Homo sapiens: one gene and its partners. The protein of the gene in region 1 purifies or fractionates together with the protein of each later gene. This does not show direct contact. Each region holds a gene or a part of one and is shown on either strand. Other genes may lie near its edges.

Region 1 (4,202 bases):
GAGAGGTGCTGGGGGCTCCCAGAACCCGGGATGGGGTATGGAGGAAGGGGTAGAAGGGAGGAGGGGTGGCCTTTAGGCTGGGCCTCCAAGCAAAGGGACGTGGAGGAGAAGGCTGGCTCAGGCAAGAGCAGGAGCTGGGAGAGGAGCTTCTGCGGAAGCAGGCTGCTGGAGGAGGTGATCCAGAGAGCCTGACTCCAAGGAACAGGGACACCTGGGGACAAGGCATGCTGAGGGGTGGAACAGAGCTGTCTGCAGGCCTGGGAGGCCCTGCGCTCTATTGCAGGATGCGGAGGCAGGGCTGTCATCGGACGTGGAGGGAGCGTGTTGGTGTCAGACTCAGGAGGGAAGGATGACTGGGGAGGCACCAGCCCCTCCCTGGCCAGCCCTCAGGGGTCCCCATCACTCCTAGGACATTTCCCCGACTCCCTAGCATGGCACTCAAGGCTCCTGATGGCCTTCACTCAACCTCCCACCTGGCCTTATTACCCATTACTTTGCTTCACACTCTGCCTCCTCCGGACCCTACTGTTCGCCACAAGCTCCCTGCACATTTCTACCCCAGGGCCTTTGCTCAAGCTGTTCTCTCTCCCCATAGTGCTTTTTCTCCCCACATCCACCTGTCTAAAGCCTCCAGGCGCAGCTCCAGTGCCCCCTCCTCCGGGAAGCCTTTCTGATCTACCACGAAGGGGTCTCCACTCCCCAGAGTGACTTTATCTGATCTCTCCCATGACTATGAGCCTGTGGAGGGCAGGGAGCCATGGCCAGCTCTTTGTGGGTCTCCCATTATCTCAGCACAGTGTCTTCTACATGGTATGACACATGCATTACCTTACACACAACACATGTGTTTTGAGTTGACCTGACTTGGACATCGTGGGAAGGACCACAGGAAGATCGATCATAGCCACCATCTAGCAAAGGCCTGCCACATGCTGGCCCCTGCGCAAGATGTCACACATGTGTGATCTCATTTGATCCCCCTGGGAGATGGCTATTAGCATGCACAGGACACCCATGGGGAAGCTGAGCCTCACAGCCACTAAGAGGCTTGCCTCCCAGGCTTACACGGTCCTGTCCAGCTTCAGAGCCAAGGTCCATGCAGAACCTCGCGGGGGCCCTCATTTCTTGATCTTAATGAACCCCCCTTTCAGGGGCAGGGATCAGGCTCTCCTAGGAAGAGGAGGGCAGGCAGAAGGGAGAAGAGAGCCTGGAGCCGAGATGCTTCCAACCCACCCCAGAGGATTCCTCACTACCCAACCCCCAACCCCAGACTTGGGTGGGCTGGGCTCTCTCTGCTGCTGTCTCTCCCCGGGACACTCTGCTCAGCTGCCTTAGATGCCCTGGCCCAGGCTAGAGGAAGGCAGGCAGCCAGGAGAGGGCAGGGAAACCCTAGCAGAGAGCCTAGAAAGCCGCTTTTGCCCCAGCTCGGTCCTGATGCTGGTGAGTGCCCCTCTCTGGTCCTGTCCTTATATACAAAATGGGAACAAGGATTCCTGCCCACTCACCATCAACTATCAAACGTTTATCAGGTGCCTCTAAGTGCCAAGGGAGGGCTGGCTGCAAACCTGAGCAGGGAGGGAGAATTAGGTGAGGCAGCTCCTGCTCAAGGCCATGGTCACCAGCAGTGTGTTGTCACTGCCTCTGTCCCTGGGTCTCTGGATGCTGGCTTGAGACCTTGTCCCGCCTTTGTGCATCTTGGCTGAGTTGAAGGACCCACTTGCTGAAGGACCTTGGACCAATCACTTCCCCTCTCTGAGCCTCAATCTCCTTTTCTATAAGAGGTAGAGGCTTGGAAGTCCCAAGCTCCTTCCCCAGGCACCTCCCTTGTACGTTGAGATGGATGGCTGAGGCTGCTGAGGCCAGGTTATGGCCAGGTGCTCTCAGCAGCCTGGAGGTCCCTGATCCCTGGTGGCCCCTAGTGGACTTTGTTGTCCTGGACAACATCACAGAAGCTGGAGAAATAGGCCCGACCAGATCTACCTTCCCAAGTCTCTCCGAAGGATTGGGTGAAGGTATCCCAGTAGGGCCAGCTCTATGCGTGTGGCCACCTATCCAATTGCACAGGGCCCCATGCTCAGAAGGGTCCTGCACCTTGTTTAATACTCTGATGTCTACATCTTGAAATTCTTAATCATTTTTGAGCATGGGCCCTGTACTTCCATTTTGCACTGGGTCTTGCAAGTTCTGTGGTGAATCCTGCCTCACACCCTCATATGGCTTCAGGCACAAAGTTTCTCAGCCCCAGACGAGACCCCAGAGCGGGATCCTGCTACTGCCAATGCCTGTGCCCCTGTGAAGGGAGGGTAAAATAGTCACACTGGGCCCTTGACATTGGAGGGGGAAGAGGGAGAGAAGGTGGGTTGGGAAAAACAGGCAGCCCCAAATCTCTGGCACCTGAGATTAAGGTGGAGAGAGCTTCTGGGCTGAGGATGGTAGGTTTGCTGGGGGTTGGGGAGGCCCCTGCTGCAGATACAAGATCAGATAAGCCTGAGAGCTGGCTCCCCATGCTGCCAGCCATGAGGGGTTAACAGCAAAGGGATGGACCTGAACCTTCGGAACTGACACCTTCCTGAGCAGCCAATCAGTTGCCAGGACTCGTGGGGCTGCACCGTGATTGGCTCTTGCCGCCTGCTCTGTTGTATAGACCCTATATTGGAGCCGGCAGGGCCCTGTGAGTTCTTTGCATCAAATCCCCCGTTTCGCAGATGGGGAGCCTGAGTCTGCTCTGTGGATGGCCCCGTGCTAGGTGTTGGGGATACAGAAACATGGCAGGAAGACAGTGCCCTCGTGTGCCTGTGGCATAGAGGGGCGCCCCCTTACACCTCACCTCGTTAGAACCAAGCTCGACGGAAGCCCTGGTGAGCTTTTAAAACTGAAAGTTAGGCTGGGCGCCGTGGCTCATGCCTGTAATCCCAGCACTTTGGGAGGCTGAGGCAGGCAGATCGCTTGAGCCCATGAGTTCGAGACCAGCCTGGGCAACATGGAGCAGAAACCCCATCTCTACAAAAAATACAAAAATTAGCCGGGCATGGTGGTGCATGCCTGTAGTCCCAGCGACTCGGGAGACTGAGGTGGGAGGATCGCTTGAGCCTAGGAGGGTGCGGCTGCATTGAGCTGTGATTGTGCTACTGCACTCCAGCCTGGGCAACAAAGTGAGACCCTGTCTCAAAAAATAAAATAAAATAAAAAGAGCCTCCCAAAAAACAACTGAAAGTTAACCTGGCCTAAATCTCTCCTGTGGCTCCCTTCACACTTAAAACTCATCTTAATGCGCAAACCGTGAACAACAGCCCCCGTCTCCCCAGCCTCATTTACCACACCCCTTACCCACTTCACTCCAAGTACACAGACTGCCTTGATGATCTCTGCCTCCCCCGAACCTCTTCACTCCCCTTTATGACACCCAGAACCCTCCCTGCTTCCTGTCATTCAGTTCCCTGCTTAAACATCGCCTCCTTGACCCCCTGTCTACAGCAGCCCCCCGTCTCCAACCTGCCCTCTCCATCCCACCACCCTGCTTGGCTGTCTTCATAGGCCCCCCGACAGCCCGACTTCATCTTGCTGCTCCTTTGCTGCCACTCCTCCTCTTGGATGGAAGCTCCCTGAGGACGGGGCCCTTATCTGCCTCACTCCCTGCCATCGCGCCAGTTTCTAGAACAGAGCTGAGCCCATTCCTGTTGCTCCGTCATGACTGCCTCCCCGACCCCGGGGAGGAAGGCAGGGCTCAGCTCTGCATGGAAGAATGTGTGCTGCTAATTGAGGTTGAATCATTTGGCACTTAATTTTCACTTTCATTTGAAATCCTCTCTTCGGTAAACTGGCGAATCCAGCCTGGGATTCCAGTGGACAGGATGACATCAGCCTCCCTAGCTGTGTGCGCCAGGCCCCACCAGGTTCTGCCTGGCCTCTCGGCAGCCCCATCCCTGCTCCTGCCGCTGTGTGTGTGGGTGCCTCATGATGTCCAGTGGCTCAAGCCTCTGCCTTAGCTCAGGCACCCCTTCTGTTGGGTATTCTGTTCCCTCCTGCTCCACCTCTCCCTGCCCCGTGACACCTCCAGCTGCCTTCATCTTTCAACCAATAGCACGGTAAGGGCCTCCCCTCCTGGCTGATGTGCCAGTTTCCCCCTCTGTTCCCCTCTGGCCCCTCCCTAAGACTTCTCCAAGAGGGTCCCTCCCTCCCTCCCTCCTTCCCTCCCTCCCTTC
Region 2 (4,202 bases), on another chromosome or scaffold:
CTCTGATCAGGGTCAGGTAGCTGGAAGGTTAAGAAATCAGACAGCGTAGACCCCAGGTCAGTCCACACATCCCTAGGGGCCTGGCTCTGGGAGGTCCCTGCACCCCAATCCAGGGCCAGATAGCAAGCCTCTCTCAGCCGCTCCTTAGAATTCTCTTCCCCCTGAGTGGAGGCACATACATAGCCTTCTGGCCATGACAATTGGTGGACGAGGTGCCACCCTACACCCTGGTCCTCGGAAGTGTGAGGTGGCTTATTCCCAAGGGGAATAAGGCTACAAAAGAAGAGAGGGTGGTGGTGATATATGTCGGGGAAGGGGGTGGGGATGGTTGGAGGTGGCCCAGGGGCCAACCTTAGCTGGGGGACCCTCTTAGCTGAGGGTCTGTGCTTGCTGCTGCTCCAGCGATTCAGGGCAGGGCCAGGACTCAGAGACAATGCAAGAGCTTGGGATGCGGGAGATGTGGGCAAGGGCCACTGATGAATCTGCAGCTGAACGCTGCATTTTGTGCAGCCAATTATCCCGCAAACATTTCTTAACCACCTATTTGGCTAGAGGCTGTGGAAATGACAGGGGGTCCTCAGCCAGTGGGCCAGTGGCAAACACCGACATATTTAGGCACAATGCATGGTGGCCAGTGCTATGGCACAGTATTCCAGGCACCCTTAGGAGTCTAACTCTTAAATAGCAACATGGCCCCAAGCCTCAATTTACCCTTATGGTAGAGGGGTAGGGAAAGAGATGTGGGCACAGTATAGGTTTGTCACCATCCTAAAGTCCTTTTTAAAGAGGTTTTTCGCCAGGCATGATGGCTCATGCCTGTAATCCTAGCACTGGGAGGCTGAGGTGGGCAGATCACTCAAGGTTAGGCGTTCAAGACCAGCCTGGCCAACATGGTGAGACCCTATTTCTACAGAAATTAGCTGGGTGTGGTGGCGCATGCCTGTAGTCCCAGCTACTCAGGAGGCTGAGGCAGGAGGATGTCTTGAATCTGGGAGGCAGAGGTTGCAGCAAGCCACCTGCACTCCACCCTTGGCAACACAGCGAGATTCCATCTCAGAACAAAAAGAAGTAAAATAAAAAAATATATAAAGGGGATTTGGTGAGTTTTTCCAATTCCCAGGAGGGAATCAGCACTGAAAGGGCTGAGTTCTATTCTGGTATTTACAGCTGACACGTATGCGCACATGCACACACATACATGCACGCACACACACACACACGCACACACACGTGTGCACACCCACCTCCTGGAAAGCTATTTATTGAGAGTCACTGGGAACTTGGGCGAATGAACCCACCTCCCTGGCCTGCAATCCCCCATTTGAAACAAGCAGGTTGTAGTAGATGATTTCCAGAAGGCTCCCCAGCTCTAGAATTCTGTGTCCTATGATTTTCTGGCTCATTTAGAAGTGGTGTGGAAAGTACCCTTTGCCAACCGAATTCCACATTGCACAGCCTGCAGGCTGCCGACTCGAAGCAGTCATATGGCAAATGTTACTGCAAATATGAAGAGGCTCCTTTAAGGGATCCTCTGTGTCAATTTTCTTGAAGGCTTTTCTTATAGAGAATGCCCCCGTCATTTGGCCTGTGCAGGGTAGGAGTCACCATCCCAGATCTGCTACATCACTTGATTTCTTAACAGCCCCATAGAGCAGACAGGATACATGATAAAGAGAGGCCCATCCAACTTAGCCCATGTTCCTGGGTCCGGGACAGGAAACCCCACCAGCTGAGCTCCCTGCCCTGCTTCATGGCCAGTGGGTGCAAATAGGAAATGAGCCCAGAGCTGGGTAAAGAGCTCCTGGCTGAGGTCCAGTGAAAGTGTCCAGGCAGGCTCAGGCTGGTGGGTAGGGATGGGCAGGGCAATGCCATTCTCTTTCTCTGATTATGTAGGAATGACTTCCATTTCAGCTAGAGCAAAGCTTGCATTCAGCAGCCCTGAAGAGGGCCTCTGCCTCAAAGGGTGTGAAGAAGCAGCACTTCCTGGAATAGGGGTCATCTACGTCCCCTCCTGAGAAGTCCAGTGAACTGGAGACACGATTCCTCCCACTTCCCTTAAGAGTGAAGGGCTCTGAGCTGGGTGCGGTGGCTCATGCCTGTGATCCCAGCACTTTGGGAGGCTGAGGCGGGCGGATCATGAGGTCAGGAGATCGAGACCTTCCTGGCTAACATGGTGAATCCCCGTCCCTACTAAAAAATACAGAAAATTAGCCGGGCGTGGAGGTGGGCGCCTGTAGTCCTAGCTATTCGGGAGGCTGAGGCAGGAGAATGGCGTGAACCCGGGAGGTGGAGCTTGTAGTGAGCTGAGATCACGCCACTGCAGTCCAGCCTGGGTGACAGAACGAGACTCCATCTCAAAAAAAAAAAAAACAGTGAAGGGCTCTGAGCTAAGTGCTGAGCCAGCTCCACAGCAGCCACCAGCATCACAGGGGTCACCAGCCCCACAGAAGCCTTAACCTTCAGCAGTTGCTCCCACCAGCTCTAGCTGCTGGAGAACAAGCCCACTGGCCAGACATCCCTTCCCAGGATGCAAACTCCCCTTCCAGGGAGCCTAAAGCCAGGGCTGAAGCCGGTTCCCCTCAGTTCTACAGTCCAGAGTATCCCAAGCGACCGCTCAGCGCTGGGTGCTGGGCTGGGCCCTGGAGGTGGTGATAAGTATGTTGTTGGCCCCTCGAGGGCCTCACCGCATGGTGGAGGAGACACACAGATCATGGAACACACTTTGGTTCTCCCTAGGAAACCAGGGAAGGCATCTCAGAGATGATGCCTGAGGGTGGCTAGGAGTGGCTCTTCCCCTCCCTCCCTGCAAGGGGGGGAATTCTAACCACAGGGAGTCTAGTCCCCTTCCCCTCTCAGCTTTCCACAGGGCAGTGGTGTTAAAACCCCAGGCAGCACCCTCCTCTCCTTTCAAACATGGGTTCCTGAGGAAAACCAGATGGGGGACAGCCTCCATGCCTCTTCCCCCACCTTCTCTAGGCCTGGGGGACACCCTGAGGACCCTCCTGGGCAGGCCACGCTCCCCTCCTCAGCCCTTCTCTGGACGACCACACTCCAAAGCTCTGGCCACACTGACACCAGGTGCTTTTGGGTCTGCCCTTGAATGGCTGGGCTCCTAACCCCGCCATGTCCAGCTCGCTCCTGCCTCAGATCCTGTCCCAAGCTGCACCATGCTGGGAACACCCACATTCCCCCACCCCAGCCCTGGGCACCTTGTTTTTTTCCTTGAGTCAGGGTCTCCCTCTGTTGCCCAGGCTGGAGAGCAGTGGCGTGATCTTGGCTCACTGCAACCTCTGTCTCCCACGTTCAAGCAATTCTCCTACCTCAGTCTCCTGAGTAGCTGGGACTACAGGCGTGTGCCACTACCATGCCCAGCTAATTTTTTTGTCTTTTTAGTACAGTCTTACTAGGTTGCCCAGGCTGGTCTTGAACTCCTAGGCTCAAGTGATCCTCCCACCTTGGCCTCTCAAATTTGCTGGGATTCCAGGCGTGAGCAGCCACACCCTGCCACCGTGGAATTTTCTCTCCAGTTCTGAGAGCTAATCTCCCCAAAGCCTCAATGACTCCATCTCAAGAACCACCATCACAGACTCCCCGACCCTAATCTGCATCTCCCCTACACACTACAATTCATAGAGCCTCAGCCACATTAGGAAACACTGACCCTTTTAATTTTAAAATCCCTATGTGAAAACCCCACCTCCTTCAGGAAGCTTTCTCCAGACCTCCAGACCACCCCTTCCAAATCTTATACTCTTTTCCATATGCCTCCCTCTCCCACAGAGTGGCACTGGGGCTTCAGTTTTTATTATCATATATCCACTGATACCCACAAACATTGGCAGGATCCCAATGCCTGGGGTCCCTTAAACCCACCAGGTGCTCAATATATATGCTTACTAATCATCATAGCTATTTTTTGAGTGTTGATCCTGAGTTGGGCGTAAAGCCAAGCCCATGATATATATACTCGCTCATCTTCATAGCAACCCACAAGGTAGGGCTGTTATTACTTTATAGATGAAGAAACTGAGGTTCAGGGAGGTCCACTATTTTGTCCATGGTCATGCACATCTCTCTGACCCAAAGTCTGAGTGTTTCCACCCCACCAAGCTGCCTTTCTGTTGCCCAGAATTCATCCATTGAACATCAGATTGAGAGTACTGAATCAGCTTGTCCTTTCAGTAGCTGAGGGAACACGGAAC
Region 3 (4,202 bases), on another chromosome or scaffold:
TGCAGTGGACTGATCTCAGCTCACTGCAATCTCTACCTCCCGGGTTCGAGCGATTTTTCTGCCTCAGCCTCCCCAGTGGTGGGATTACAGGCGCATGCCACCATGCCCAGCTAATTTTTGCATTTTTAGTAGAGACGGAATTTTGCCATGTTGGCCAGGCTGGTCTTGAACTCCTGACCTCAAGTGATCTGCCCGCCTTGACCTCCCAAAGTGCTGGGATTACAGGCATGAGCCACCACACCTAGCCATCTTTTACCCCAGTCTCAACACATAATGAATATCACCATAACTTTGTTGAAAGAGAAAGTTGCTGTCATATTAAGGCTCTAACTATATATTGCTTAATATATTTTAAGGACGTTATACTCAATAATTAATCATTTCTGTCTACTTTGGACAAATGGCTGGTAGAAGTTTGTAACTTTTTTCTTTGAATTCTAATTTGAGGGAAAATCAATAGTGTGCTTTAACAAATGTTTTTATGGTCTTGCCAGCTTGCAGGTAAATTCCATAATGTGATTATATCATACTTAGGATTATACATTTTGGATTCATCTATTTATGAGCATTTCGTATTTCTCTTTTTATAGAGTATAAATCAACCTGTATTTTGGTCTCTACTGCCATGGTAAGTTTAGATTCTTATCTATTAATTAAAATCCAATTTATTTTCTGCCTAGATGCATTTGCTAAAAAGTGAAACATCAGTAGCAAATGGCAGTCAGTCAGAAAGTTCAGTGTCTACTCCATCTGCGTCATTTGAACCTAACAACACTTGTGAAAACTCTCAGTCCAGAAATGCAGAGCTTTGTGAGATACCACCCACTTCTGATACAAAGTCAGATACTGCAACAGGTAACTTTTAATGTACCTTTTTGAGTGCAATAGAAGCTCCTTCACTACATTTTAATATTTAAATATTAATATTTTAAAAATATATTGTATGTATTTTTCTTCACATTTATTTAACTTAAAATTTAAGAGTCATATTAAATACACATGTGTCATTTAGTGGCAGAAGACAATAAAGTCAGTGAATGTCAGCTCAACTCCCAAATAGTCAACAATCCAGAGCAATTGATTTATAATTTCTGCTATTGCGCTGCATGCTTCAAGGAATGTCATGACACTGAGCAGTTTTATAAATCTCTTACTAGCCTAGAGAATTTGGAAAGTTTCAAATGAACTAAAGTATTATATTTGGAATTGTTTCTATAACATGTAAAAAGCTATATAAATTTAAGAGAATAGTGTTATATATATTTTTTTTGATTAGAGGTAAAAGATAATTATGAAATAGAGCTTGTAGAAGTAAGAGGTGTGACTGTAAACTCATTGATAGAAAAGGCAAAAGAGAAATTTTTGGGATTGTGGTTGGAGTTGTTTGGTGTAATATAGCTTTGTATTAGGCAACCGAGGGGTAAATAAATCAAGATGTTAGGATATTAGTGTCCTAAAAGATGAATCTACTCCAGCATCCCACACAAATAATCATCAAGCTTCTATTTGAATGCATTCAATGATGGGAAGCTCATTACCTTGCTAGGAAGCCTGTTCTGTTGTTGAACAGCTCTAGTTTTTAGAAAGAGTCTTCCTTATATTGAGCTGAAATTTGATGCCCCATAACTTCCTGTTAACATTAATGCTGCCTTGTGGAGTTACACATGACAGGTTTTGAATATTTGAAATACAGCTATTTGTCTCATTTTGAGGTTTTACATCGGATGGATCATTCAACTTCTGGATGTGTACGGAACGGGGGGACTCTATTATGGATGTTCATTTAGGTCTACGACAGAATAATTACTTTAATTGTATTTACCTGGATATATATCATTTCCAAAATTCTTCATTCCATTTTGAAGATAGACACATGTTTCCCTCTGGTATAATATTCTTTCAGCCTGAAAATTTTCCTTTAGCATTACTTATTGTACAGGTCTGGAGTTTTCTTTATGTGAAATGACTTTGTTTTATCTTCATTCTGGAAGGATATTTTTGCTGGATATAAAAATTTTTGTTTACAGTTACAGGTATTGTCCACCGTCTTCTGGTCTTCATAGTGTTCTAATGAGAAGTCTCCACAAATTCTGATTGTTCCCCCCTGTAAGGAGTATGTTGCTTTTCTCTGGCTGCTTTCAGGATTTCTTTCTTTCTTTGGTTTTTAGCAATTTGACTGTGATATGCCTAAGTGTATTTTTCTTTGTATTTATCCTGTGTTTGGTTTGCCTAGTTTCTTACATCTGTAAATGTGTGACTTTCACCAAGTTTGGGAATTTTGGTCCATATATCTTGCTGGAATGAATTACATGTATATTAGGCTTCATGGTATTGTCCCACAGGTTTATTTTTTCACACTTATTTTTTCTTCTTTGGATTGGATAATTCTGTTGATCTGCAAGTTCACTGACTCTTTATCATCTCCATTCTGATGTTAAGCCCATCCAGTGAATTTTTTATTTTAGATAAAATTATGTTATACATTTTTTAGTTGTAGGATTTCTATTTCTTTCTCTCTTATTATAACTTTTTATTTTGAAATAGTTTGACTCATAAGTTACAGAAGTTGTGCAGAATGAGTACTCTTCATCTACGTTTTATTCTTTTAATTCATTTCAAGTGTATTTCCCTTTTCCTCATTTGAGTTATAATGGCTGCTTTAAAGTCTTTGTCTGACAGTTTCAATATCTAGCTCATCTGAGGATTGGCTTGTGTTGATCACCTTTACCCTTTAGAATGGGTCACATTTTCTTGTTTGTTCATATGTCAAAAAATGCTGGATTGTATCTTGTACATTGTTGTAGACACTCTGGATTTCATTATATTCCTGCAAAGAGTGTTGTTTTTGTTTTAGTAGACAATTAACTTGGCTAGACTAAAACTGCAAGCTCTGGCTTACCTGAGGTGAGTAGCAGCTCTAATCTCAGTTTTTTTTTAGCTTAAAAAAAATTTTTTTTTTTTTTTGGTCAGGTGTGGTTGTTCACACCTATAATCCCAGCACTTTGAGAGGCCAAGGTGGGCAGATTGCTTAAGCCCAGGAGTTTGAGACCCGCCTGGACAACACGGCAAAACTCTGTCTCTACAAAAATGTGTCTGCAGGGTCTGGCTCTGTCACCCAGGCTGGAGTGCAGTGGCACAAACATAGCTCACTATAATCTCCAACTCCTGGCCCACGTGATCTCCTGCTTCAGCCACCTGAGTAGCTAGGACTACAGGTGTGCACCACCACACCTGGCTAATTTTTTTTTTTTTTTTGAGATGGAATTTTGGTCTTGTTGCCCAAGCTGGAGTGCAATGGCACAATCTTGGCTCACCACAACCTCCATCTCCTAGGTTCAAGCGATTCTCCTGCCTCAGCCTGCTGAGTAGCTGGGATTACAGGCATGCGCCACCATGCCTGGCTAATTTTGTATTTTTAGTAGGGACGGGGTTTCTCCATGTTGATCAGGCTGGTCTCAATCTCCTGACCTCAGGTGATCTGCTTGCCTTGGCCTCCCAAAGTGCTGGGATTATAGGTATGAGCCACCACGCCCAGCCTAATTTTTTAATTATATTCTTTGCAGAGATGGGGTCTCACTATGTTGCTTAGGCTGTCTCAAACTCCTGTCCTCCAGTAATCCTCCTGCCTTGCCCTCTGAAAGTGCTGGGATTACAGGCATGAGTCATTGGATCCAGGCCTGTAGCTTTTTAAAACTATTTATTATGGAAAATTTCAAACATACATAGAAGTAGAAAAAAATAGTATAAGAAAACCCCATTAATCCATTGCCTAGCTTCATGGCCAATATTCTCATCTGTGCCCTCCACTCCTCTTCTTTTTCAACTTATTTAGAACAAATCTCAGGTAAAATATTTCAATATGTATCTCTAAAATATAAGAAAGGAATATAAATCTTTTAAGATTATATATAGTTGCCTTTTAAAATAATTTTTTTTTTTTGAGACAGAGTCTCACTTTGTTGGCCAGGCTGCAGTGCAGTGGCGTGATCTCGGCTCACTGCAACCTCCACTTCCCAGGTTCAAGTGATTCTCCTGTCTCAGCCTCCCGAGTAGCTGGGACTACAGGCGTGCACCACCATGCCCGGCTAATTTTTGTATTTTTAGTAGAGACGGGGTTTCACCATGTTGGCCAGGCTGGCCTCGAACTCCTGACCTCAGGTGATACGCCTGCCTCAGCTCCCAAAGTGCTGGGATTGTAGGCG
Region 4 (4,202 bases), on another chromosome or scaffold:
AATACCTATATATGATGCATACATGATACATACAAGTGTACATTCATACATATGTGTGTAAACAGTGGTGATAAAGATACTTGTCCTTGGACAGAATGGTTTTGGTAAATGTGCTGGGCTGTCTGCTTTGGCAGAATGTCTTGCTAATCCTAATTAAGGTAGTTTAAGCCTCCTATATATTTGTTTTCAGGTATTTGATTTCAGTCAAATTGTGAGAAGAGATTATCTGTAAACTTTAACATTGAGACATTTAGGCTGGGAGTGATGGCTTACGCCTGTAATTCCAGCACTTTCAGAGGCCAAGGCAGAAGGATTGCTTGAGCCAGGAGTTCAAGACCAACCTGGGCAACACAGCAAGACCCTGTCTCAAAAAAAAAAATTAATTAAAATTTTAAAACTACAATATTGACACATTTAAAATTTCTTAAATGTCTTAGGTCCTATTTCTTAGGGAGAAATTTGTTTTTTATCTCATTGGTGTTTTGGCAAAGTAAAAATTTTACTGTGACCTTCAGTCAATTTTAGGCCATAAAATAACCTATAACTTTCCTTGCAGTATTTCAAAATAACAATGTGTTGATATTTATTACTGTTTTCCCCTCTGCCTTCACATCTGTTTTATAATTGCACAATGGATAGGATGATACCATTGAAGGCTTGTTTTTGGACTAATTCTTTGCATGTATCATCCTTCATTTTCCCAGTACACGAAGGAGAGTGATTTCAGCATTAGAAGTTGGGATTTGTATAGTTCAAGGATTTTAGTATTTTTAAGGCTTTTTCATCATAGTTTTTAATTCTAGTCACCACACATCTCTAGCCCTAGCATTCTGTAACCAAGGAAACGCCCTACTTTTAGCATGGCACAGTACAAGTGTACCTTTTAAAGAAATATTCCAGGTTGAATACTCTGTGTATTCTGAGATAATATTCAAAAGAAGATCAGTGATCCTAGTGATTCAAAAAAGCCAAATTTTAACACATTAAAATTGCCTGAAAGTCTTAAGTATTTATTTTTAAAAGTCTTTATTTTTCCTAAATGATAAGCTGAAGCTGCCATTGCCATATATGGATGCATATACAGCTTAGGGAAACCAATGACTAAAATAAAATCCAACTGAAAAAATAAAGTTTAAATTTAAAAATTTCTGGCCAGGTACAGTGGCTCATGCCTGTAATCCTAGCACTTTGGGAGGCCAAGGCAGGAAGATTGCTTGAGGCCATGAGTTCAAGACCAGCCTAGGCAACATAGTGAGACCCTGTCTCTACAAAAAAAGTTTAAAAATTAGCCAGGCATGGTGGCATGCACTTTTAGTCCCAGCTACTCAGGAGGCTGAGATAGGAGGATTGCTTGAGCCCAGGAGTTCAAGGATGCAGTGAGCTATGATCATACCACTGCGCTCCAGCCTGGGCAACGGAGCGAGACACTGTCTCTTAAACAAAAAATCTGTGTTGCAAATGTATTTTTCAGGTGAGTTGACTAGCATTTATCTTAAGGAGTATCAACTACACTCAAAGCATTTAGATAGGCCAGTTTAGGTTAAGATACAAAGATGAGTAAGGTGTATCTATTGGGGGAACCAGCCCCCAATATTTCAATGTATGTTCTATTTTCCCTAAATGTCGGCCCATCTGAGAAATAGAGAAAGAGTACAAAAAGAGGAATTCTACAGCTGGGCCTCCAGGGGTGACATCACATATCGGTAGGTCCGTGATGTCCCCTGAGCCACAAAACCAGGAAGTTTTTATTAGGGATTTCAAAAGGGGAGGGAGTGTACAGGGAGTAGGTCACAAAGATCACGTGCTTTACAGGGCAATAAAGATCACAAGGCAAGGGCAAAGCAAAGATCACAAGGCAAAGGGCAAAATTAGAATTACTGATGAGGGTCTATGTTTGGCTGTGCACGTATTATCTTGATAAACACCTTAAACAACAGAAAACAGCGTTCGAGAGCAGAGAACCGGTCTGACCTCAAACTTACCAGGGCGGGATCTTTTCCGCACCCTAATAAGCCTGAGGGTACTGCAGGAGACCAGGGCGTATTTCAGTCCTTATCTCAACCGCATAAGACAGATACTCCCAGAGCGGCCATTTATAGACCTCCCCCCAGGAATGCAATTCCTTCCCCAGGGTATTACTATTTTTTTTTTTATTATACTTTAAGTTTTAGGGTACATGTACACATTGTGCAGGTTAGTTACATATGTATACATGTGCCATGCTGGTGCGCTGCACCCACTAACTCGTCATCTAGCATTAGGTATATCTCCCAATGCTATCCCTCCCCGCTCCCCCCACCCCACCACAGTCCCCAGAGTGTGATATTCCCCTTCCAGTGTCCATGTGATCTCATCGTTCAATTCCCACCTATGAGTGAGAATATGCAGTGTTTGGTTTTTGTTCTTGCGATAGTTTACTGAGAATGATGATTTCCAATTTCATCCATGTCACTACAAAGGACATGAACTCATCATTTTTTATGGCTGCATAGTATTCCATGGTGTATATGTGCCACATTTTCTTAATCCAGTCTATCATTGTTGGACATTTGGGTTGGTTCCAAGTCTTTGCTATTGTGAATAATGCCGCAATAAACATACATGTGCATGTGTCTTTATAGCAGCATGATTTATAGTCATTTGGGTATATACCCAGTAATGGGATGGCTGGGTCAAATGGAATTTCTAGTTCTAGATCCCTGAGGAATCGCCACACTGACTTCCACAATGGTGGAACTAGTTTACAGTCCCACCAACAGTGTAAAAGTGTTCCTATTTCTCCACATCCTCTCCAGCACCTGTTGTTTCCTGACTTTTTAATGATTGCCATTCTAACTGGTGTGAGATGGTATCTCATGTGGTTTTGATTTGCATTTCTCTGATGGCCAGTGATGATGAGCATTTTTTCATGTGTTTTTTGGCTGCATAAATGTCTTCTTTTGAGAAGTGTGTGTTCATGTCCTTCGCCCACTTTTTGATGGGGTTGTTTTTTTCTTGTAAATTTGTTTGAGTTCATTGTAGATTCTGGATATTAGCCCTTTGTCAGATGAGTAGGTTGCGAAAATTTTCTCCCATTTTGTAGGTTGCCTGTTCACTCTGATGGTAGTTTCTTTTGCTGTGCAGAAGCTCTTTAGTTTAATTAGATCCCATTTGTCAATTTTGTCTTTTGTTGCCATTGCTTTTGGTGTTTTGGACATGAAGTCCTTGCCCATGCCTATGTCCTGAATGGTAATGCCTAGGTTTTCTTCTAGGGTTTTTATGGTTTTAGGTCTAACATTTAAATCTTTAATCCATCTTGAATTGATTTTTGTCTAAGGTGTAAGGAAGGGATCCAGTTTCAGCTTTCTACATATGGCTAGCCAGTTTTCCCAGCACCATTTATTAAGTAGGGAATCCTTTCCCCATTGCTTGTTTTTCTCAGGTTTGTCAAAGATCAGATAGTTGTAGATATGCGGCATTATTTCTGAGGGCTCTGTTCTGTTCCAATGATCTATATCTCTGTTTTGGTACCAGTACCATGCTGTTTTGGTTACTGTAGCCTTGTAGTATAGTTTGAAGTCAGGTAGTGTGATGCCTCCAGCTTTGTTCTTTTGGCTTAGGATTGACTTGGCGATGCGGGCTCTTTCTTGGTTCCATATGAACTTTAAAGTAGTTTTTTCCAATTCTGTGAAGAAAGTCATTGGTAGCTTTATGGGGATGGCATTGAATCTGTAAATTACCTTGGGTAGTATGGCCATTTTCACGATATTGATTCTTCCTACCCATGAGCATGGAATGTTCTTCCATTTGTTTGTATCCTCTTTTATTTCCTTGAGCAGTGGTTTGTAGTTCTCCTTGAAGAGGTCCTTCACATCCCTTGTAAGTTGGATTCCTAGGTATTTTATTCTCTTTGAAGCAATTGTGAATAGGAATTCACTCATGATTTGGCTCTCTGTTTGTCTGTTGTTGGTGTATAAGAATGCTTGTGATTTTTGTACATTGATTTTGTATTCCCCAGGGTATTATTAATATTCCTTGCTGAGAAAAGAATTCAGTGATATCTCTCCTACTTGCACATCCGTTTATAGGCTCTCTGCAAGAAGAAGAATATGGCTCTATTCTGCCTGACCCTGCAGGCAGTCAGACCTTTGGTTGTCTTCTCTTGTTCTGTAAAATCACTGTTATTCTGTTTGTTTTCAAGGTGCACTGATTTCATATTGTTC
Region 5 (4,202 bases), on another chromosome or scaffold:
TGTGGTAAACAATCCTTTGCTATTTTATTTGTACTACTTACTTAGCAGAGTTGCCCTTCTATTGTAGTTTATTGCAGAATCAAATTCAACTCCTGACTGGTTGAATTTTGATGGATTCCAGGTTGCAAGAGTAAAGGAAGGATGAGGTCCTGGACGGAAAATGTGGAAATTAAAAAGAAGTTTCCCCTCTTAACTCTGCTTACCATTCTCTCATTTAACTCCAATATCCCAAAAGCCAGGCTTCAACCTTCCAGAAGGACCCTTCTGGAAAACTTACCAAATCTCCAGCAATTGTCTAGGTATAAAGTAAACGTAGGCTAAAGCAGGAGGATCACTTGAGCCCTAGAGTTTGAGACCAGCCCTAGTAACACAGTGAGACCCCTGTCTCTACAAAATATAAAAATTAGCCAGGCACAGTGGCAGTGCCTATAGTTCCAGCTACTTGGGAGGCTAAGGCAGAAGGATCACTTGAGCCTGGGAGGTCAAGGCTGCAGTGAGCTATGATCCTATAAGTGCACTGCAGCCTGGGTGACAGTGCAAAACCCTGCCCCGCCTTTCCCCTCCAAAAAAAAACCCCAAAAAAACCCCCACAAAAAACCAACAACAACAAAAAAAAAGTAAATGTATATGTACTAGAAAAAAACAGAACACAAAAAACACCCTTAGAGATTTTAGTTGTTTCTTCCCTTCCTCTCTTTTTCTTTTTTTTTTTTTTTTTTTTTTTTGAGGCGGAGTCTCGCTATGTCGCCCAGGCTGGAGTGCAGTGGCGCGATCTCGGCTCACTGCAAGCTCCGCCTCCCGGATTCGCACCATTCTCCTGCCTCAGCCTCCCGAGTAGCTGGGACTACAGACGCCCACCACCGCGCCGGGCTAATTTTTTGTATTTTTAGTAGAGACGGGGTTTCACCGTGTTAGCCAGGATGGTCTCGATCTCCTGACCTCGTGATCCGCCCGCCTGGGCCTCCCAAAGTGTTGGGATTACAGGCGTGAGCCACTGCGCCCTGCTCTTTCTTCTCTTTTTCTTTCCTTCCCTTCCTTCATTCCTTCCTTTCTTCCCCTTCCCTTTCTTTTCTTTCTGACAAGTTCAGTTCCTCTGTTGCCCAGGATGGAGTGCAGTAAAATAATCATGGCTCACTGCAATCTCAAACTCCTGGGCTTAAGCAATCCTTCCACCTCAGCCTCCCCAGTATGTGAGATTGCAGATGTGCACCATCATGCCCAGTTCATTCTTTAATTTTTAGTAGAGATGAGGTCCCAGTATGTGAGATTGCAGATGTGCACCATCATGCCCAGTTCATTCTTTAATTTTTAGTAGAGATGAGGTCTTGCTATGTTGCCCAGGTTGATCTCGAACTTCTGGGCTCAAGCAGTCGTCCCACCTCAGCCTCCCAAAGTGCTGGGATTACAGGCATGAGCTACCATGCCTGGCCTGGATTCTTTGATTTTTAAAGTTCCAATTAATGAACTGTTGGGCTAAAGATGAAAAACCAGGCTAAGTAACCTATATTGATAAGCAGACATTCCTAGTTCATGTTATGAAGGAAAAACAATGGCGTCGATTTATCAGGACGTGGAGACGGGAGAGGAGAGGAGAGGGAGGCTAATTTTTAAAAACTTTTTGGAGAGACGGGGTCTCGCTGTATTGCCCAGGTTGGTCTTGAACTCCTGGACTCAAGTAATCATTCTGCCTAGGCTTCCCAGGCATGAGCCACCATGCCTGGCCCATCCCCCCACACCCCCAATTTATAAACCATTATTTCCCATTAACTAGTCTTGTCAAAGGTTATCACTGGACTTTTCTGTGAAGGTTTAGAAAATTCCCTGGTTCTCGCCAGGCGCGGTGGCTCATGCCTGTAATCCTAGCACTTTGTTTGGGAGGCCAAGGTGGGTGGATCACCTGAGGTCAGAAGTATGAGACCAGCCTGGCCAACCAGCATGGCAAAAACCCATCTACTAAAAATACAAAAATTAGCCTGACATGGTGGCAGGCACCTGTAATCCCAGCTACTCAGGAGGCTGAGGCAGGAGAATTGCTTGAACCCGGGGGTTCAATCAAAGAAAATTCCCTGGTTCTCTAAACATGGAATTACTGAAATCTGGATTTAGGTTCAAACCTGCCTCTTGGGCTTTGCCTACTGCAGTAGCTCAACAGTTCTCTGGCTAAAAAATAAAAATCAGTGTGTAATTCAAGTTCAATTCATTTAATAAATACTCAAGTATCTACTATGTAGAAGGCACTATACATGGGGTTTTAAACAACTCGGACTACCAGCTTATTTATTAGTTGTGTGACCTTGGGCAAATTACTTTTCTACGACTCAGTTTTGTGAAACAAGGATACCACTTCTTAGTTTGTAGGACTGTTGTAAGAATTAAATGAAATGATATATTCAAAGCACTTGGAACATAGCAGGTGCTCAACAAATGTTAACTGTGACCCTCTGCCCTTCCCCGCAAAGAGGACTTAAACCAAAATAAACCTTTGTTTAAAATAATCCATATTTGTGAATTTAGGCATAAAAATACCCACAATTAAAGGACTTGTCAACTAGTTTTTGTTGCAGATTATAACTAGTATTTGATTTTTGGTCTGTATAAAGTAAAACTCTTGCAACCTGGAATCCATCAAAATTCAACCAGTCCTGAGTTGCATTTGATTGATTCTGCAATAAACTACAATAGAAGGGTAACTCTGCTAAGTAAATAGTACAAATAAAATAGCAAAGGATTGTTTACCACATTTCCCTACCTGAGACAATACACTCTTGAATAAATAACACTTTTAAACTACTCATTTAAAAATAATTTCCTGTTTACCTAAAAGTCACAAGAGTAGTATATTCTTTACCTGGACTCCGTAATTGTTAATGTATCGTCCTGTGTAATTTATTATTCTCTCTGAATGCACACACACAGGTATTTTTTTCCCCTGGACTATTTGAGAATAAGTTACATAATTCATGCTTCTTTATCCTTAAATCCTTGTTTTTCCTAAAAACATGGACATTCTCTTATAAAGCCAGCAGAGTTGTCTACTTCAGGAAATTTAAGTGACCTCGCCAGAGGCTAAGACTCGTGACTCCTATAGTGGTTGAGGAGAGATAGTTGCCTGCCTGCTGGGTGGGAACCTGGGGATCTGATTACTTGGAAGACTTCCTAGAGATCCTCGTCTTTTCAGCTTCTCATTCCCCTCCTGAGGTGTTTCCAATTCCTGAGCCTTTTTAGGACTCTAGGTCCAGTCAATTGACCTTTCAACCACAACTCTCACTGTAGTCACTTAACAAGGCCAAGGAGGCGCAAACCAAAGGCATTTACCATTCTTCCGTTTCTTCCTATATTGTGGTCTTTTCATTTCATAACAGAATTTAGTTTTTATTTTGTTCTCCTTATTTGTTTGGAGGAGTTATTAAGTTAGAAAGCAGATAACAAAATAGTCCAGCAACTCGATCAACAAAATTTTCATTTTTCATTGGGCATCTTTTGTTAAAGTAAACTGTATCTATACATAATCATTCATATACATTGAAAAGAAACCAGAAGTATGTATACCAAAATGTTGTGGTTGGTTGGTTCGTTTTGAGACAGAGTCTCGCTCTGTTACCTAGGCTGAAGTGCAGTGGTGCAATTTCGACTCACTGCAACCTCTGCCTCCCGGGTTCAAGCGATTCTCTTGCCTCAGCCTCCCAGGTGGCTGGAATTACAGGCACCCGCCACCACGCCCAGCTAATTTTTGTATTTTAGTAGAGGTGAGTTTTCGCCATGTTGGCCAGGCTGGTCTTGAGTTCCAGACTTCAGGTGATCCACCCACTTCAGCCTCCCAAAGTGCTGGGATTACAGGCATGAGCGCCCAGCCTGTTTGTATTTTGAGACAGGGTCTCACTCTGTCGCCCAGGCTGGAGTGCAGTGACACGAACACAGCTCACTGCAACCTCAACCTCCCACCTTAGCCTCCCGAGTGGCTGAGACTGCTACCACGCACCATAATGCCTGGCTAATTCTTTGTATTTTTTGTAGAGATAGGCTTTTGCCACGTTGCGGAGGCTGGTCTCAAGCTACTGCACCTGGCCTCAAAATGTTAACAGTAGGGCGCGGTGGCTCACACCTGTAATCCTAGCACTTTGGGAGACCAAGGCTGGAGGATCGCTTGACCAAAGGAGTTCGAGACCAGCCTGGGCAACACATTGAGACCCCGTCTCTATGAG
Region 6 (4,202 bases), on another chromosome or scaffold:
TCTTACCCCAGCTGGCTAGCTTCTATTTGTTTTTGAAATTTCTGCTTAAATGTCACCTCATCAGGTAGGCTTTTCTTACTCCCTGCTAGAGTAAGTCCTCCTTTTACCCGAGGCAAGTTTCTTTCTTTCTTCTTCTTCTTTTTTTTTTTTTTTTTTTTTGAGTCTCACTCTGTTGCCCAGGCTGGAGTGCAATGGCGCGATCTCGGCTCACTACAACCTCTGCCTCCTGGGTTCAAGCAATTCTCCTGCCTCAGCCTCTCGAGTAGCTGGGATTACAGGCATATGTCACCAGGCCCGGCTATTTTTTGTATTTTTAGTAAAGACGGGGTTTCGCCATGTTGGCCAGGCTGGTCTCAAACTCCTGACCTCAAGTGATCCACCCGCCTAGGCCTCCCAAAGGGCTGGGATTACAGATGTGAGCCACCACGCCCAGCCAAGAAACATACTTTTGAAAGAGCATACTTCTAAAAGGGCACAACCAACAGGTACACTCAGGAAGACTTGAAGGTCTACAGTATTAAGATTATTGGTTTAGAGAAGGACTTATCAAATTCTTCAACTTATTTATTGATGATGATGGACATCAGAGTAATGAGAGAGGGAGATGAAGAAATAGGCACAGATGTAGCCTGTGTAGTCCTTTGTTACTTTTTGACTGTAAGAAAACTGTCACATGCCAGGTTTAGTACCACACTGCAGTTGCAAAAAGGTAACTGAAACATCTGGAAGCTAAGTGACTTGAACTGGATTCGCTATGATTGACAAAGCTCACCTCTGTGGAGGGTACCAAGAAACCTACTTTCTTATGCACGACGGAGGAGCTGGAATTGATTGTGCTTTCGTCATCGTGCATCATGACAAGTTCGGAACTGCTCTCGTCCATGACTTCCTGCATGCTGTTCACACTGCTGCTCTGGCTGCCTGTGCTCACGGACATGCTTGGAATGGAATGGTTGCTGCCCAGGCTGTCCATTTCCCTGTTCAGGCTGGTTCCATGTTCACTGTCCTGTAAAAATGGGGCACTGAGGTTAGAAAAAAAGACTGAAGATAAAGAGTCAATCCATTGACAAAAGTGTCAAGCACACTCAATTTTGCAGTGTCAAGTTGCTTTTCTGCCAATCTGCAAAGACAAACTTTTTATGTACTGGCTCCACTACTCCTCCACCATTTTCATACATCTCATATTTGCTTCCTATGCCTTCCCCAGGGGCCATTCTGGACGTGGGTCATAAGGCTCCAAATGCTGCCATCCCAGGGCTTTCCCCTGTCATACACACTATCATATTATCGTGTTGCTATTCAGTAAGCAAAATCAAGCCAGGTTTGTAAGGGACCTTCTGGAACATCAAGGAGCTAGAGGAAGACTGCTGGCCACTAAACAGGTGAGCTCTAGGATATCTTCAAATACAGCAGTGGTCACTTGAAAAAGTAGAGTGGAAAGAGTTTTCAGATATTTGACAAGCAATATGCTCCCTCTGCAAGTCATTATTGAGTAACTTCATATCTAAGCAGAAATATTAATTCTACTTTCCTGGACAGGTAATTAAAGTCTGCCTCCCTCAAGCGATTCTATCATGCTTATCTCTGTAATCTTATTATATATATCTGTTAAATAATACTGGTATTCATCATTACTGGCCCAAAGACTACTATTTGAAAAGTGGTAAAATAATCAGAACATATAATTTATCCATCACAGTGGGATATCTTTTGATATAAGATTGAATAATAAAATTAAATCCATTTAGCTACAAATAAACCTTGTTCTCAAAAAACCATATGGTACACATATAACTTTAATAAACTGTTACTTAGCCATGGCAATATAAAAAATTACTGGGTAATATAAAATGGAAGATAATACATTATTTTTAACAGACTTATTTTCCCAATTAAAGGGGATCATTTCTATATATGCAATCAAGAAATTTTATAGTTCAATGCAACTTTCCGAGCTTCATTTTTAAAATTATTGATAAAATACTTTTATGTTTATTTTATTTTCTGTTAAAAAGCTAAAATACTCCTGTTCTTGTTATGTCTACGTTCTGAAATCCTGCCTCTTTAACTATATCCCTTTCTTCTATCTTCGGTGCCTCTGACTCTGCCCTGGCTCCATCTCTACTGCATTTAAAGATGAAGAAGCCTGCCTTATATTTATGGATCTCTCTACATGCTGCCCACTCTTACTTTTCCTTCTTAACCCAATTTCTGAATCTTAACATAATTATTTTTTCCTGTCTCCCTCTTATCAACTCCCATGAATTATACAACTCCAGTAATCTACTATTCATTCTACCTAGTCCTGTAAAACTGCTTTTACTAAGGTCATCAAGGATTCTCTAACTGAAAACTTCTATCTGTATACTGGCAAGAGTTTATAATGCCAGGACCTTAAACTCAAAAGGCACGAAACTGAAATCATCCTAAATCTACTCTTTCTCCCTGGTTCTTTTTCTCTGTTCTTGGTATTGACATACTCCTAGCCACCCAGGCTCCAATGCTCAGAGTCACCTTAAACTCCTCCTTATCTGTCACTGTCAATGAGAAGCCATGGATTATGAAATCTACCTCTACGATGTTTCTCTAAAGTGCTCCCTTTTCCCCATTTGCATCGACACTGACCTTATTACCTCTTGCATGGACTATTAGCCAGGATGTTGCCCATTCAAATCCATGTTACACTCTGTTGCTAGGATAATCTTCCTAAAGCACAACACCTTTCTGAGTCTAGAACACCCTATGCCCATTTGTCAGAAACTACCCACATCATGTCCTCCAGGAAACCTTCACTAATCCCACCAGCAGACTTATTTTCTCCCCATGATGGACCCCTGCAATGGGGTTACACCTCTGTAGCACTTTTCATATTTTGCCTTATATAAGTGTTATTTTATGAATGTCTCTTGTACAACCCTTCATGTTTCTTAAGGCGGACAGCATCAATTAATTTTTATCTTCAAAAGTTTTTCATAGTGCCCAGTCTAGAACTTTTTCACATAGTGGGCATTCTATAAGTGCCTGCTAAAATAAATTGAACCTACTTCCTCATCCTCCTGTGACTCATTCAAGGGTCCATTCCGTGTCTCTTGGAAAAGTATTTTTTTCATTTTTCGGTACTGTAGGTTATCTAGCTCACGAACTGCATCTTTTGTCCTCTGTATGAGGTCAATGAGGACACGTAGTGGCCGGTCTCGTCGAACAAAGTCATGCTGATTGAGGGAGGAGGAAAAAATAAACTGATAATGAAGAAATGTCCTTAGGTGCAAGGTACAGATATAAAAGGAAATAGAGAATCATAAAATAGTTCTATGGATATTACAGAAATAACAAAATATGATTTTCATGTCATGTGTCCTTCCATATTTTGTAAATCTCATAAAGAGATAGCTATGCTTTTTTCTTCTTCCTTAAGCCCCATTTTGCGGATGTGAGAATTCTTTTTAAAAATTGTACATATTTAAAGTATATGGCAACATGTTTTGATACACATATATATAGTGAAATGATTTCTACAGTTAAGCAAATTAACATATCTATTATCTCATATAGTTACTTCTTGGTGGCAAAGTACCGAAAATCTTTAGTCTTAGCAAATTTCCCAGATATAATACAATATTATCAACTATAGTCCTCATGCTGTACACTGGATCTCTACACTTATTTATCCCACATAACTAAAACTTTGTACCATTTGACTTTCATCTTTCCATTCCCCATCCCTTTCAACCACCTTTCATTTTGTGTTTTATTCTTTGTTTACTTTCCACATGTAAGTGACATCATATGCTATTTTTTTGTGTGTCTGGTTTATCTCACTTAGCATAATGTCTTCTGGGTTCACATGTATTGCTGCAAATGGCAGGCCCACTTTCTTAAGACTATATATAAAATAAATATTATAAATAAACAAATATATAATAAATATATATAATAAAATATTCAGTCATATATATTATTGAGTCTTAAATATCTATATCACATATACCATAATTTCTTTTATCCTTTCATCCACTGATGAACACATAGGATGTTTCCTTATTTTGGCTATAGAGAAAAATGCTGTGATGAACATGGGGGCACAGGTATTTTTATGAGGTGCTGACTTCATTTTCTTCAGGTATATAACCAGCAGGGGGATTATTGGAACAAATTAACATTTTGTTTTTTGGGTTTTGGAGGAACCTCCATACTGTTTTCCA
Region 7 (4,202 bases), on another chromosome or scaffold:
CTCTCTCCCCTCTGGGTACTGCTCTTTTTTGGGGGCCATCTTCATTACTAATCACTCTTTCAATATTTTTTTTATTTTTTTAATTTAATTTTTTTTTTTTGAGACAGAGTCTCACTCCATTGCCCAGGCTGGAGTGCAGTGGCGCCATCTTGGCTCACTGCAACCTCCGCCTCCCAGGTTCACACTATTCTCCTGCCTCAGCCTCCTGAATAGCTGGGACCACAGGCACGTGCCACCACACCCGGCTAATTTTTTGCATTTTTAGTAGAGACGGAGTTTCACTGTATTAGCCAGGACGGTCTCAATCTCCTGACCTCATGACCCACCTGCCTCAGCCTCCCAAAGTGCTGGGATTATAGATATGAGCCACCACGCCCGGCCTCCTTTTATTTTTTTGAGATGGAGTCTTGCTCTGTCACCCAGGCTGAAGTGCTGTGGCTCGACCTTGGCTCACTGCAACCTCTGCCTCCCGGGTTCAAGTGCTTCTTCTACCTCAGCCTCCCGAGTAGCTGGGATTACAGGCACCCTCCACCACACCTGGCTAATTTTTGTAGAGAAGGGGTTTCACCATGTTGGCCAGGCTGGTCTTGAACTCCTGACTTCAGGTGATCCACCTGCCTTGGCCTCCCAAAGTGCTGGGATGACAGGCATCAGCCATCGTGACCGGCCTACATTTTTTTAAAAAGGTAATAACAATCATGAATGGAGTTGTTTTGGGTTTTATTTTCATAATTGTCCTCAGAAAGATAAGGTAAATGTGTGTACTGGCAGTTTTCCCATTTCTGAGCATGCTTTGTTGAGGAATAATAAAAGAGAATGACTCTGCCATAAAGACTATCTGCAGAAAAACACAGTTCTTATTAATTCAAGTTTCCTTTTGCTTAAAGAGCCAGAACTCAGTAATCTCCACAACTTCAGAATAAACCACCCAGGACTCATCAACATCATTTTATCCTGAAACCATATGGATTTTTCTTTATTCTTCCCCTTTAAATGCTGTTAAACCAAAACCAGAAGTAATACTCAGACCTCAGAACTACTATCTGGCTTGTAGTTAAAAACATGGATTTGGGTCAGGCGTGGTAGTTTACACCCATAATCCTAGCACTTTGGGAGGCTGAGGTGGGAGGACTGCTTCAGCCCAGGAGTTCAACACCAGCCTAGGCAACATGATGACATCCTGTCTCTCCAAAAAAAAAAAGAAAGAGAAAATATATATGGATTTGTTCCTTCTTTGAGAAACTGAAATTATATCTTGATTTTTTTTGGGGGGGGGACAATTTAGCATTTTTTTTCTAACTGTAGAAGTTCAAATGAAATATTATCTCTCTTTTTGAAATTTTTTTATTTTTTGTGGAGAGGAATCTCGCTATGTTGCCCAGGCTGGTCTTAAGCTCCTGGTCTCCCACCTCAGCCTCCTGAAGTGCTGGGATCACAGGAGTGAGCCACTGTGCTCGGCTGCAACATATATTATAGTGTGGAAATTGGCAACTATTCTCTACTCAGTTATTAGCAAACAACATATATGCCAACCCCGATGCTAAATTAAAACATGGACTATGATTAGTGATTGCTGTCTAGTTTATTTCTTATAAACTATATGGCCTTCTAATATTAAAACAATCTGTACACATTAAGGACACTGAGTAAACATTCATCATGCTTTTTGTAATGAATGTTTTACTTATTAATCATTCATCCTTATCTTCCTTCCCTACCAAATCAGAGTTTCTACCTGATTTTGACTTCCCCCTCTCCGCCTTCTAGGATGTGCTTTCAGCACAGTCTTTGGTGGCTGCTGTGCATTCTGACCCCCCTCTCTCCTCCCTCACACTGACTGTAAGTAGAAGAGCAGCAAAATGTCGCCGTATTTACCAGGAGGCAGGGGCTGTGTGACTGGGCCAACCTCAGCCCTCCTTACCTTGCACAGCCATGCTGGATGACCTGGCTCCTGACGCACACCTGGGCCATGGCTGCCCCACTCTCAAGCTTTCTCCATCTATGAGTCCCTGCAGCTTCACTACCCTGGCTGGCCACCCAACTCTAACTGCTTCTTCAGCCTTCTTCATGAGCTTTTGCTCCTCTTCCTACCTCCTTGACCAATCGGCACCCACCTCTGCCTGCAAGCTCTCATCATGCCTATGACTGCACAGATCACAGGGGCAGGGCTCATTTGGGAATCGTTTGTCCATCTCTCTTATTAGGTCATAAACTCCTGAGGGCAAGAACTGTGTCCTGTTCATGACTCAACAGTAGACAGTCAATTAATGCAATCAACCTCACTGATTATATGAACTCAAAAAGTTACGCTAGACTCTGCCTTCTCTGTTCGTCCCTGTGTCACTGATTGAGTCTACTCCACTGACTGACTATCGCGCCCAGGCAGAAAACCCTCAGTTCCTCCTTTCTAGCGGACAATATTCATCCCAAGTGCAAAGAATTTCAGTAAGAACATTTAACATAGCCTGAATCAGACCTATGAATACTTTTTATTCCAAACCTTCAGGAAAGTTAAACTTCCTGCCTCCTGAAGCCACCCTGCTTCCTGAAGCCACCCATCTCATCTGTGATCTGGTCCAAGGGCCACGCCTGTCTTAGGCTGGAACGTGCCCACTTGTCCAGTACTGGCTGGCAGCATACAAGGATACTGGCCCCTCTGAGGCCTTCTTTCCCCACACTGACATGTCCTCACATCTACACCACTTGAGGTCATGTGGCGTTAGGACGGACCATCGTGACCCCCATCTAAGAGGTCTGATGTGCAGCATGGAAGGGATCTGTTCCAGAGCCCTGTGTCTGATGATGTGGCTGCGGGACTGAGACCCCAAGGGCAGTGTTCTAATACAGCTCTAAGAACTGAGTATTTAATGATCCTGGTAAAGTCAAGATGAACCTGAAAGGTGCACCGTACGTTGCATGTTCCCATCTCCCCACTCCCATTGTCTGCAGCTGTGCTGTGGCCTCTTCATCCTGTCATCCTGTTTTTTTCCAGGCTTTCAAACGCAGGCTAAGATCCTACCTATTCTTTGAGGTCATTTCCAAGGGCTACCTTCCACATAAAATTTTCTCTCCAGTCCTTGCAAAAGAATGAAATTCTTCACGGCAACCCTGTAACACAGAACACATCCTGTGTGTCTGCCCTCCTATCACAGTGTGGGCTCACTTTCCCTGTGTGCTGCAGGCCCCATAAGCCCGCCTTCTGGACCATGCCGGGCTCTGTGTCCCTGCAATAAGCAGCTGAGGGGCTCCCACGCTGTGGACAGGGAGTGGATACCCATGGAACACAGTCATCAGGCCCCAGACAGCCAGGATTTGCTGTTAAGACAAAAGCCTAAATACCTGACTGACCGATTTCAAAAGTGCCACCTCTCTCGCTTGCTTGTGGGATGGTGGGGACTGAGCTGACACAGCTGGTCATCCAGCTGCCTACGCATTCTCTGTGCTCTTGTCCCCACTGAGTCCAAACACAAGGTTATCTTTAAAAAATAAAACAATACCAGGAATCCTTCACCTCTACATTTTATTGTAATTTACCTCAGAAGTTAAACAACCCTAGTGCTTCTTCATGACTTTGAAGGTGAAGGTATTCAGATACTGCATAAAAGACAGCAATCGCACTTGCTGTAAGAACACCAACACTGATGCTTTTAGAACAAAAGGTTTATCATCAAGTGGTGGCACCATTCTTACCAGATTATCGAGCATCCGCATGAGGGCTTCAAATTCCTGCTCACCAATCTGCCACTTGGGAGGCGATCCAGTGCCTTCCCCTACCGGAGACCCTGGGGAACGGGACTTGGCTTTGTACTTCTCAGGATTCAGCAGGACTAAGTTGTCTGGTCCTCCTGCACTGGCCAGAGTTCGAACCTTTTCCAAAACACACACAGCATGGCTTGAGTTCCTTACTGAGATCAAGAGGGTCAGATGACTTGAATAAAAATGTAGGTTTCAAAAGAAACCAAATCTCTAGAGTGTAAGAATAAAAAATGTAGAATGGATAGTGACAGACTGATCACAAAGTTACTTTCAGAAGTATTTCTTTAGCATGACAAAAATATTGGGCACCAAAGTTGGCAGAGAAATGAGAAAACACAGCACCTTTCAGGATCCTACAAAGGACTTGGGACTTCACTACGCCACAGACATAAGTCAAGAAGCAGAGGGGAGAACGTGAACTAACGGCTGACGGAGCGGAGGGGAAC

What was found.
Region 2: the proteins of RAC2 (region 1) and PODXL purify together in Homo sapiens (affinity purification with mass spectrometry, with the first as the bait; one study listed by BioGRID). This does not show direct contact.
Region 3: the proteins of RAC2 (region 1) and UBXN4 purify together in Homo sapiens (affinity purification with mass spectrometry, with the first as the bait; one study listed by BioGRID). This does not show direct contact.
Region 4: the proteins of RAC2 (region 1) and RAP1GDS1 purify together in Homo sapiens (affinity purification with mass spectrometry; 2 studies listed by BioGRID and IntAct, with this or other methods). This does not show direct contact.
Region 5: the proteins of RAC2 (region 1) and SLC30A5 purify together in Homo sapiens (affinity purification with mass spectrometry, with the first as the bait; one study listed by BioGRID). This does not show direct contact.
Region 6: the proteins of RAC2 (region 1) and TAOK3 purify together in Homo sapiens (affinity purification with mass spectrometry, with the first as the bait; one study listed by BioGRID). This does not show direct contact.
Region 7: the proteins of RAC2 (region 1) and ADD1 purify together in Homo sapiens (affinity purification with mass spectrometry, with the first as the bait; one large-scale study listed by BioGRID). This does not show direct contact.

Annotation. Positions count from the first base shown.
Region 1 is NC_000022.11:37,237,220-37,241,421, reverse strand, and holds part of RAC2 (ras-related C3 botulinum toxin substrate 2), read left to right. Parts: intron 1-4,202. UniProt on the Homo sapiens protein: Plasma membrane-associated small GTPase which cycles between an active GTP-bound and inactive GDP-bound state.
Region 2 is NC_000007.14:131,549,581-131,553,782, forward strand, and holds part of PODXL (podocalyxin isoform 1 precursor), read right to left. Parts: intron 1-4,202. UniProt on the Homo sapiens protein: Involved in the regulation of both adhesion and cell morphology and cancer progression. Functions as an anti-adhesive molecule that maintains an open filtration pathway between neighboring foot processes in the podocyte by charge repulsion.
Region 3 is NC_000002.12:135,754,837-135,759,038, forward strand, and holds part of UBXN4 (UBX domain-containing protein 4), read left to right. Parts: intron 1-680; coding exon 681-855; intron 856-4,202. UniProt on the Homo sapiens protein: Involved in endoplasmic reticulum-associated protein degradation (ERAD). Acts as a platform to recruit both UBQLN1 and VCP to the ER during ERAD.
Region 4 is NC_000004.12:98,411,081-98,415,282, forward strand, and holds part of RAP1GDS1 (rap1 GTPase-GDP dissociation stimulator 1), read left to right. Parts: intron 1-4,202. UniProt on the Homo sapiens protein: Acts as a GEF (guanine nucleotide exchange factor) for the Rho family of small GTP-binding proteins (G proteins) that stimulates the dissociation of GDP to enable subsequent binding of GTP.
Region 5 is NC_000005.10:69,096,409-69,100,610, forward strand, and holds part of SLC30A5 (proton-coupled zinc antiporter SLC30A5), read left to right. Parts: intron 1-4,202. UniProt on the Homo sapiens protein: Together with SLC30A6 forms a functional proton-coupled zinc ion antiporter mediating zinc entry into the lumen of organelles along the secretory pathway.
Region 6 is NC_000012.12:118,198,252-118,202,453, forward strand, and holds part of TAOK3 (serine/threonine-protein kinase TAO3), read right to left. Parts: intron 3,213-4,202; coding exon 3,045-3,212; intron 1,007-3,044; coding exon 800-1,006; coding exon of another isoform or gene 773-799; intron 1-772. UniProt on the Homo sapiens protein: Serine/threonine-protein kinase that acts as a regulator of the p38/MAPK14 stress-activated MAPK cascade and of the MAPK8/JNK cascade.
Region 7 is NC_000004.12:2,898,924-2,903,125, reverse strand, and holds part of ADD1 (alpha-adducin), read right to left. Parts: intron 3,868-4,202; coding exon 3,691-3,867; intron 1-3,690. UniProt on the Homo sapiens protein: Membrane-cytoskeleton-associated protein that promotes the assembly of the spectrin-actin network. Binds to calmodulin.